Linked DNA regions of Homo sapiens. The protein of the gene in region 2 purifies or fractionates together with the protein of the main gene of each other region. This does not show direct contact. Each region holds a gene or a part of one and is shown on either strand. Other genes may lie near its edges.

What was found.
Region 1: the proteins of NME2 (region 2) and DSTN fractionate together in Homo sapiens (co-fractionation; 2 studies listed by BioGRID). This does not show direct contact.
Region 3: the proteins of NME2 (region 2) and TAGLN2 fractionate together in Homo sapiens (co-fractionation; one large-scale study listed by BioGRID). This does not show direct contact.

Annotation. Positions count from the first base shown.
Region 1 is NC_000020.11:17,594,060-17,597,787, reverse strand, and holds part of DSTN (destrin), read right to left. Parts: intron 1-3,728. UniProt on the Homo sapiens protein: Actin-depolymerizing protein. Severs actin filaments (F-actin) and binds to actin monomers (G-actin). Acts in a pH-independent manner.
Region 2 is NC_000017.11:51,164,911-51,168,510, reverse strand, and holds the start of NME2 (nucleoside diphosphate kinase B), read right to left. Parts: upstream 2,101-3,600; 5' UTR 2,014-2,100; intron 2,011-2,013; exon of another isoform or gene 1,948-2,010; intron 1,790-1,947; exon of another isoform or gene 1,685-1,789; coding exon of another isoform or gene 1,681-1,684; coding exon 1,555-1,680; intron 270-1,554; coding exon 168-269; intron 1-167. Other genes in the region: NME1-NME2 protein, read right to left, coding at 168-269, 1,555-1,684. UniProt on the Homo sapiens protein: Major role in the synthesis of nucleoside triphosphates other than ATP. The ATP gamma phosphate is transferred to the NDP beta phosphate via a ping-pong mechanism, using a phosphorylated active-site intermediate.
Region 3 is NC_000001.11:159,917,480-159,920,156, forward strand, and holds the end of TAGLN2 (transgelin-2), read right to left. Parts: intron 2,357-2,677; coding exon 2,182-2,356; intron 1,898-2,181; coding exon 1,795-1,897; intron 1,463-1,794; coding exon 1,321-1,462; 3' UTR 632-1,320; downstream 1-631.

The DNA.
Region 1 (3,728 bases), on a different chromosome or scaffold from region 2:
GACAGGAGTGATGCATACACAACTGTGAATATACTGAAAAACCACTGAATTGAACTGTACTTTGTGGTATGTGAATTATACCTCAATAAAGTTATTACAACAAATACCATGTGTTCGCACTTAGGAACTAAATAATGTGTACACCTGGACACAGTGTGAAATAAAAGACAATGGAGAGCCAGGGGAGGATGAGGAATTAATTAATGGGTAGAATGTATGTTATTCGGGTGATGGATACCCTAAAAGATCTGGCTTCACTGCTACCATCCATGCATGTAGCAAAATTACACTTGTACCCCCATACATTTATACAAACAAATAAAAATAAAGTTGTCACTTTAAAACACATGCAAGAATCCTGGGAGAAAGATACACTAAGATCCTAGCATTTACTTAATATTAAGGTAACTGGGCTATTTCATCATCTCATTCATTAAAGATCTCTAAATAACACACTCCAATGCCATCTACTCCACATTTTCTGTTCATAAATGAACATTCACTCTAATAAAGTGGCAGAAACAGAAAATTAGGACTAGAAAACTCATAAGTACACAATATTACCACATTCCTAATTTTAAAAAGCACTTTTCTTAAACCTTTTACTGCTTTAGGAGTAGCATATTTCTGATCTTTACAACGTATCTTATGTTAAGCAAGTTAAGAATCTCCATTTTGCAACAGATGAATAAAATGTTCAAAGCAACAAAAATTGAAGAACTAGAAACAGATCCCAATCCCTCTAACTCCCTAGTCCATAATGTTGAAGTCACATTTGACCCAACAAGCAATTTCTAAAAGCAGGAAGGCAACATCTAAAGCCTTATATTCAATCAACCAATCTTTAAATACATCAATCAATATCTAAGCATCTCAAACATTCTAAATTCTGATTTGTAAATTAAATCAATGATGTACTAGTAATCAAAAACAAAGTAAATGTGCATTCTGCAATTATAAAACAGATAAATCTCAGCCAAATCTGGCTGTAACTTACAAGCTCCTTAAAAGCCTCAGTAAGGAAGAATTTTGTCTTTTTTTCTATCAGAAGTGATGTCTGTGGAGGTTTCTTATACCATTAGACACTTGTGCTTGAGGAAATTAACACTGAATACTTGAAGGAGAAACTGGCACAGAAACTGGAAGCAGAAAACCAATTTTGACACAATTACAAATATTCAGAGAAGAAAGCTCTGAACTACAGCAGTGAGGTTAAAAACAGAAAAATTCAAGGACATGTCAAAGTCAAACCAATATAGCTGAATGAGACACAAAAGAGTGGTATCAGAGAAGCCCCAGGATTCTCTCGATTAGTGACTAGACTGCAATATATGAACAGAAAAGGAAATATGGCACAGTACGACACATCCACTCTGAAGACTGTGCAAGACATCTAGGTGGAGATGACCAGACAGTGGCAGAAATATGAGCACGGATCTCGTTGGAAGGCTTCACCTAATCCATATTTTGGACTAGCCCACACCATGGGGTCACCAACATTAAGCAGCAAAAGAAAAACCAATCTAGTTTCTCACCACTGAGTACGTAAAAATTAAAAAGAGAAACCCATCAAGGACACTAAAAAGAGGTAATCAGAAAACTAAGAAGAAAAAGAAGGAAGAAAGCAGCATCTTAGAAGCAAGGGAGAATATTTTGAGGAGGAAAGTCATCAACAGCCAATTCTGCAGTATTTCAGAGAATGAAAACAGATCGCTGGGCTTGGCAATTGGGCCTCTGAACATTTCAACAGATGGGAGAAATGGGACAGAAGTCAACCATAATGGACTGGGGACCCATGGGGAATTGAAGAGGTAAAGACAGAAAACATAAGATGGTTAACAATGAAGAAAAAAGGGAAGATTGAATGGTACTTCATGCAAGTTGTCTTATGATTGGGGAGATGTAACTGTTCTAGATATTTAAGAACTTGAAGGAATAAAGAGGAAGAGCCAAAACATTAAAAAAAAATTAAAACATACACTGAGTACTTACTATTGCTAGACACTTCTAAATCACAACAATTCTATGAGACAGCTACTATCACTATTTGCATCTTAAAGATGCATAGCAAAATTAAATAATTTGCCCAGGGTCACAGAGTAAACAATAGAGGAATTGGGATTTGAACTCTGGCAATTTGGCTCCAGAGGAGATTTTTTTTTTTTTTCCAGATGGACGTTCGCTCTTGTCATCCAGGCTGGAGTGCAATGGCACCATCTCGGCTCACTGCAACCTCTGCCTCCTGGGTTCAAGCAATTCCAGAGGAGATAATCTTAATCACTCATAAAATTAACAATATCAGAGATCTAAAGAAATGGGTAAGATCCACAGCACAGATGGGAGAGTTAGCCTAAGAAAAAGATACACATTTTTTTCTCTGAAACAGGGAGGAAGGGAAAATGACAGTTTTGAGGTGGAAGGAAGATACACTGCCAAAAATTGTGTCTGAAAGATTCTATTTTCTCTGTGAAGTATAAGGCAGGAGGAGTAGGATGGGTTTGAGGGCACTCCTCCAATCTACTACTACTAACAATTCAGAACAGCTATGACGGGGAGTTCCAAAAGGAACTACCTAAGGACAAGAAAAAGGGCTCTGGGGACCTCCAAAAGGTCAGCTGAGGTCAAGGGGTGAGGGTGGTAGGACAATGCAGTGGAAAGCAGAGGCTGATGGCAGTGTGGAAGGAAAGGACGAACTCTGCATTCTTCCTCAGAGAGTTTACCCAAGCTCAAGCTTTCAATCATCTAAGCCAAAACTTAGTTCAGACTTCTGCTCTTCTGAGCTTCTAGTCTTTACATTCAACTTCCTATCTCACATCTCCAGTTGTGTGTCTCAAAGGCATGTGATGCACAACATGTCTAAAATAAAAAACAAGCTGGTCCATTTCTAACCAGTCTTCCTTTCTCAGTAGCTATCACCACCCTCCTAGTCACATAAGGCTCCAAGCCTAAGAGATGTTCTTAGCAACTCCTCCATTATCTTACTCTTTGGATTTTCATCTTTCTCTGATACATTCATCTCATTTCACCCTCAGTCCAAGCTTCCATTGCCTCTTACTTGGACTGCAGTAACTCCTCAAGTGGCTGCAGAGGAGGGAGATTAGGATATGTATACATCATACTGTTTTCTCTTCTTGGCTGAACAGGAAAGACTGCATTCCCCAGCCTTCCTGGCAAGCTGAGTTGGCTGTATGACTGAGTTCTGAACAGCCATTTGAGTTCTGAACAGCCAAGCTGGGCCCAGTTATGTAAACTACTTCCAGTCCTGGCCCTTTAAAAGTGATCTTTAAATACACTAAATACAGCTTTTTAGATGTGAATCCTACCACAATAAAATGATTTTTAAAACATCAAAAATTAAATAAAAGTTAAATAAAAGTGATCTTAAAGCTCTGTTTTCTCCCACCAAGATGACCTTGGTAAGCATACTTCATGATAGGAGAAGGCTGCCCAACCCTTCTGGACTCTGCGTGACAGAGACAAATCTTTACTGTGTTAAGTCACTGAGATTTTGAATTTAATTTGTTATTGCAGTTCTAATACAACAAGACTGCCCATACCAACTGCCCATCACCTTTACCCTCCAATTCATCCTCTACATAAACATGAATCTGATCACCATACTTAGAACAGTCCAGTGGCTTTCCATTGATCTGAAGGTAAAAAATAGCTATTTATTTATTTATTTATTTATTTATTTATTTATTTTTGAGATACGGTGTCACTTCGTC
Region 2 (3,600 bases):
TTTCTAAGGTCTGATTTGCTTTCTCCTCCCAAGCTCCTAGTTGCTCAGTTAAGTAACTTCAGCAGGTTCCATTCATAAAATAAAATTTAGATTAGCTGAGGGAGATGTCTAACAAAGAACACTGAGCACTTTTTCCTCATTTTCTCTCATTCCCCACGAGCACTCACCATGGCCACAACCGGCCCTGAGTTCATGTACTTCACCAGCCCAGGGAAGAATGGTCGGTCTTTCAGGTCAATGTAGTGCTGCTTCAGGTGTTCTTCAGAGGCCTGGCATTGGAGAGGAGGCACCAGTTAGGAGCTAAGCTGGAAAGACTCCAACCCATCCTCTGAACCTCCCATTAGCAAGTCCGGTTTTATATTCTAGCCCACGTTCCTAAGTGGTGTGTGGAAATATATATATATATACACACATATACACACACATAAATATTTTTTAAATCCCATCCAAACCATGAAACTAATGCCATTTTAACAGAAAGACTGTTCTTTTTTTGGTGTGTTGTTTTGGTTTGTTTTAGGAGACAGGGTCTCACTATCATCACCCAGGCTGGAATGCAGTGGCACAATGATGGCTCACTGCAGCCTCAACTTCCAGGGCTCAAGTGATTTTCCTACCTCAGCCTCCCAAGTAGCTGGAACTACAGATGCACTCAACCATGCCCAATTAATTTTTATTTATTTATTTATTTATTTGTAGAGACAGGGGCTTGCTATGTGGCTCAGGCTGATCTCCAACTCCTGGGCTCCACCCACCTCGGCCTCCCAAATTGCTGGGATTATAGGCGTGAGCCCCGCGCCTGGCCAAGACTGTTCTAATCGTAAAGACACCCTCATACCGTCAATGACATTAGGGGTTTTGTAAGCCTAAAAAGTAGGTGGTTTGAGGATCTAGATTTAGGGAATTAAATTTTGGCTGCAACTGAAGTACATATGTCAGGTCATCTGCCTGGCAGAGGTCATGTTAAACTCCCCTGGGCTACTCACAATGCCCTTTTAAATATTTCAGATAATAACTGAGAACATTCTCTTCACCGATGAGCCTGGTTGAATTTCAGTACTTAGATTCTTACCCGTAAGTGTAGGGATTCAGATCTGTGCCCCAAATTTAATGTGGAAAATACACTCACTACCCTATGCTAAAGGAGGAGCACCGCACTGGAACTCGGAGTTTCAGACTAAAGCAAAGGAGATTCCAAGCCTCCATTCTGTGCCTAGGTGGACCCGAGTGGGCAGGCGCAGGGGGTCTGGGGCCCGGGGTTTTTCCGCTCCCTGCTGCCCCCCTGCGGCGGGTGGGCAGGTAGCGGCCCGCGGGAAGGAACCCAAACCCGGAGGGCGAGTCACGCTACCAGCGCTTCACCTTCCCAAGGGCGTCTGTCCCCACCACCCCGGGAAAGGGTCGGCGGGCCCAAGCCGCCGTGGGCGGGGGCAGAGGGCAAAGGGATTTCGCGGCAGCGAAATGAACTCGGAAAGCAGACGCGGACAAACCGCCGCCGGGAGGGAAAAACACCCGCGAGCCGGCTGCAGCGGGGAAGGGGAGACGGGGGCGAGTTACCCGGAGGAACTTCATGGCCACGAGGCGGAATCCCTTCTGCTCGAAGCGCTTGATGATCTCGCCCACCAGGCCGCGCTGCACGCCGTCCGGCTTGATGGCGATGAAGGTGCGCTCCAGGTTGGCCATGGTCCTGCGGGGCGAGAGGTGCGGTCAGGGCCCGGGCGCAGGCTCTGGCGGGGCCCGCGGAGGCCACGTGGGCGCCGCCGGTCCCTCCTCCCCCACCACGCGCGGCCGCGGGGACACGTGGCTTCCCGGCCGCTTCCGCCCCGCGCAGGGCCGGCGTCCCTCTGCGGAGCCCGAAGGCCCGCGGGGCGCAAGCTGCAAGGGAATCTCCCGCTCCGACGCCGCGCGGGACCTGCGGGAAATCGGGGGGCGCCCACAGACCGGGCCCACCTGCGGCAGCGCAAGCGGAAGAGGGAACGGGAGGAGTCGCCAGGGGATGCGCCCCCACCGCCTTACCGGGAAGCTGGAGGGGCCGGGCGGCGGCGCTGCGCTGGGAGAGCAGAGAGCTGGTGCGACCACCACACCCGGGAGCCGGCGGCGGAGGAGGGGCGCAGGGCGGAGCGCGGGGTGGCCACACCCCGGAGGGCCCAGCCGCCCAACCCGCAGGAACGCCCCACCCGCCCGGCCCGACGCGGCCGGAGAACAGTGTCCACGCCCAGCCGGGGCGCGCCCTCGCCAGGCAGAGATCGAGACGGATCCAGAGACAGGAAGTGATTCCTTCTCCACCTGGACGTCCTATGAGTTCAACTACGCACGTCCCAAATCCCACTCCTCACCTCTCAGTACTTCCCGTGACCCCAAAAGCTCCTACACACACACACACACACACACACACACAGAACCTGCTCCTGTGCTCGAGTTCTCTACCCCGGTCAAGGCCATCTGCTGCTTTCACCATCCGCCCGAGCACCGGCATTAACCTTGACTTGGCTCTCCCTCCCCGTCGTGCACCCACGGTCCTTATCCTCCCTACCTCTGAAATCCAGCCTTCCCTCCCCTCTGCTTGAGCCCTGGTTAAGCCTCGGCCTCCCAAGGGGCCTCGATCTCACCTCTCCGCGCAAACCGGGAGCTTTGCTCAGCACCTCAAACGGCCATCTGGTCCTGCCTCTGCCCTGCCTTGATGACTCCCCCGCCTACAGGATGGCGTTCAGACTCCTTAGCGGGATGCTCTTCTCGCAGGATGCCCTGCTCCCTGGCTGCCGCCTCCCCACCTACATTTCCAGCCCCAATCAGCCGCCCCACTCCCACCCTGACATGGGGATCCCTGCCCACCTGGCACTAAAGTGCGGTCGAGTTTTCCAGTTCACCCTGAGGTGCGCCCCTGGACCCTGAGGAAAGTCTAGACCCTGTCATAGAGATTAGGCCTGTCATCGACCTGTAGACACTTCCTACTTGCAGTGTCCCTGGCAAACAAGCTCCCTTTGGTGATGCCCAGCTTCCCTGGGGCGGTCACAAGCCCCTCCTCTCGGCGCCTGCAGCACTGACTGACAGCCGCACAGCAGTGGTACTGCCCTGAGATGGTGAGAGCCCGCTTGCTTCCCCTCAGGACTCTGAGCTGACCACAGCAATCATGCCATCACCCGAGTGCCCCTAGCACTGCGCTGATCACCTGTCACTGGCCAGATGGATGACAATCTGGCCTCTGTTATACCTTATCGGCTTTCCAAACTTCTAGTTACAGAGCATTAGCCCACCACACATTGACAATGACTGTCATGTGCCCTCATCTGGGGGCACTGTTATTTTTTGGCTTCGATCTGAAACACACTCTCATTTGGATTACCAAATGTCAACTGTGAAAACAGGTCTCGAAATTGCACGGACTTTTCTCTGTCCAGGGGAGAGCTATCTGCTCCCCTTGGTCAGGTCACTGATGGCTACTCAGGGTACAGTCAGGACCACCCCTCTGCTTTCACCTCTTCTTTCCTTCCTGGGAAGACTGTCCTTAACTGGGGAGGCTGTAACCCTCCAGCTTCACTACACACATGTTCATTCCCCCAAGTCCTGGTATGCTCATCTCACGCCCCAAAACAAACAGGCCAC
Region 3 (2,677 bases), on a different chromosome or scaffold from region 2:
GACCCAAAATTGATGATCATGGCCCAAGGCCACACCCTAGAAAGGAAGTTTTAGTCTCTCCCAGGCACTTAGTTCACAGGTGCTTAGGATCAATCAACACGGCTTCTTCCCTCCAGCGACCACCACCAACTCACTCCTGCTCATTCCCCAGCTCTCCACGTTTCCTCACCACTGCAACCCCCACCCTCACCACTCCAACACAGACCACCTCACCCCAAGCCCGCCTGAGGGACCTCTCACCTGGAGACAGCTTCACTTGCCAGGACTGATGGCTGTGCCAGCAGCCAGCCCCACCCTCTCAGTGACTGAGAAGCTGTTCCAACTGTAGAGGCAGACCCAGCCAAAGGCAGCAGGCAGGATTAGCCAATTCCATTGACTAGAAAGGGCCTTACTTCCCTGTGGACACTGCCTACATAGTCTGCATTCAGCTGTGAGGTCCTGTCCCCTCTCAATTCCAACCTACACCACCCCCCAAAGCAAGTGAGAATGAGGATGGGGAGGAAACTCAAGACAGGGGTTAGCACTGCAACCTCTCATCTCTGCCCTCCTTCCTGTATCACTCACTGCACTTTGCCCAGTATTCCTCCCTTCCCCACAGTGGCACAGTGGCCCCAGACACAGCCAGAGTCCATTCAAAAATGACAAATTCTTTATTTAAATCAACAAACTCATCTTCCTCAAGCCCCAGACCATGGTAGGCAGCCCTCCCTCTCCATCCCCTCACCCCACCCCTTAGCCACAGTGAAGGGAATGGAAAATGAGAAGCCACGAGGGCCCCTGCCAGGGAAGGCTGCCCCAGATGTGTGGTGAGCACAGTCAGTGCAGCTGTGGCTGGGGCAGCAGCTGCCACAGGCTCCTCCCTATAAATTAAGTTCCTGCAGCCACAGCTGTGGGAGAAGCATACTTGTAGAAGCAAGGCCAGTCCAGCATCAGAAGGCAGAGGCAGCATCAGTGACTCCCAGCCATGGAATGAACGGAGGACACAGAGCTCAGAGACAGAACAGGCCAGGGGGAAGAAGGAGAGACAGAATAGGCCAGGGCATGGCGGTGAGGGACTGAGGCCCCTAAATTTTGGTCCCAGGGGAAAGGAAGAGGCCAGTTGGTCCAGTTTTGATGGCTATGGGGAAGGGAATGTATTAGTAAGCATGGGGGAGAGGATGCCAGCAGGCACCTCAGAGGTGACAGGACAGGCTGAACCCCCCACCCTGACAGAAAGGAGCTTGAGAGCTCTGGGGCTCTCTGGGAATGTCACTGCTAAAATATATATCTACATATATATTAACCATTCGTGGGAGGGCAGGGGCAAGGCCTGGGGTGGGATCAGAGGATCTGGCGTGGCATCCCGTAGCCAGTCATGCCTGCCTGAGACGCCCCGCGGTTGGTGCCCATCTGTAACCCGATCACGTTCTTGCCCTCTTGCAGCTGGTTATCCGAGAAGTTCCGAGGATTCTCCTTGGATTTCCTGGGTGACAAGGGAGTGGTGGTTAGAGGAGATCACAGGCTGCCCTAGTAAATCCCTTCCTTGGACAGAGCACAGGCTTTGCTGTTGGCTCAAGGGCTGGTGCCAGCTCTGCCCTCGAGAGCCATAAGCTCTCTGAAGCCACCTCCTCATCTGTCCAAAGGGACAGTCATTTGCCATCCCAGAGGGTGTTGTGAGGATTAAGTGAGATGAGGAATTTTCTGAAAGTGCTTTGTAAAGGGCCAGCTGCTACTGAGATAAGTTATTTCCTAGGGACAGGATTGGGCAGAAACAATGCACCTGCTGGACCCTGCGGCTGTCCCAGCAATACTTACTTAGGGAACCAGTTGGGATCCCCAGAGAAGAGCCCATCATCTCGGGCTACTGCCAGCCCACCCAGATTCATCAGCGTCCGCTGCACACAGGCCATGTTCTTTCCTGGGAAGGAGAATGGGAATGTGTCAGCCTCCGCAGTGTCCTAGATACCAGGGTTCCGCCTCTATCGCTAAGTCAGCAGGCCTGGCTTCCTAATTATTTCTACTGTTCATTTCCATACCCTTCTCCATTCCAGCCTCCAATATGACCAAGTGCTCCATGGAACACAAACACACCCCTCTTTCTCTGCAGGGAGCCAGAAAACAGCCCCTTCTGCCTGGTCAAGAGGGCCCAGCCCAATCTCTGGCCTCCTGGATGACAGGACCCAGCCCCTCGCCCTGTCCCACCTTCCCAGAGGTCCACAGTTTGGAAGATGTCAGTGGTGTTAATGCCATAGCGCTCAGCTGCTTGCAGGAACTGAGAGATCTGCTCCATCTGCTTGAAGGCCATGGTGGAGGCCTGGATCTTCTTTACTGGGGCCTGCCCCTCGGGGTACAGTGCATTAATGAGCTCACATAGCACCTGGATGAGGACAGCAGGGGTGGAAAGGTGAGAATATGCCTACCTATCGCAGCTCAGCGTGCACCACCCTCAGAACCAGAGACAATGAACCAGAGAGGCTCCTGTCTTGCCTGAAGACAGCTTGGACTCTTTCACTAGAGTAAGCCTCACAGTCCTTCTTGCCAGCCTCCTTCCTCCGAGCCCAGAGTGAAAAGCCAGTGTTTAGTCTTTCCTTGCTAATATACCCTCCCACAGTTCTTTCCTTAGAGACATTCTTCCTCAGTGTCACCTCAGTCTTCCACTGCCTGGGAGGCACATTCACCCTTACCCTCCACTCCACGG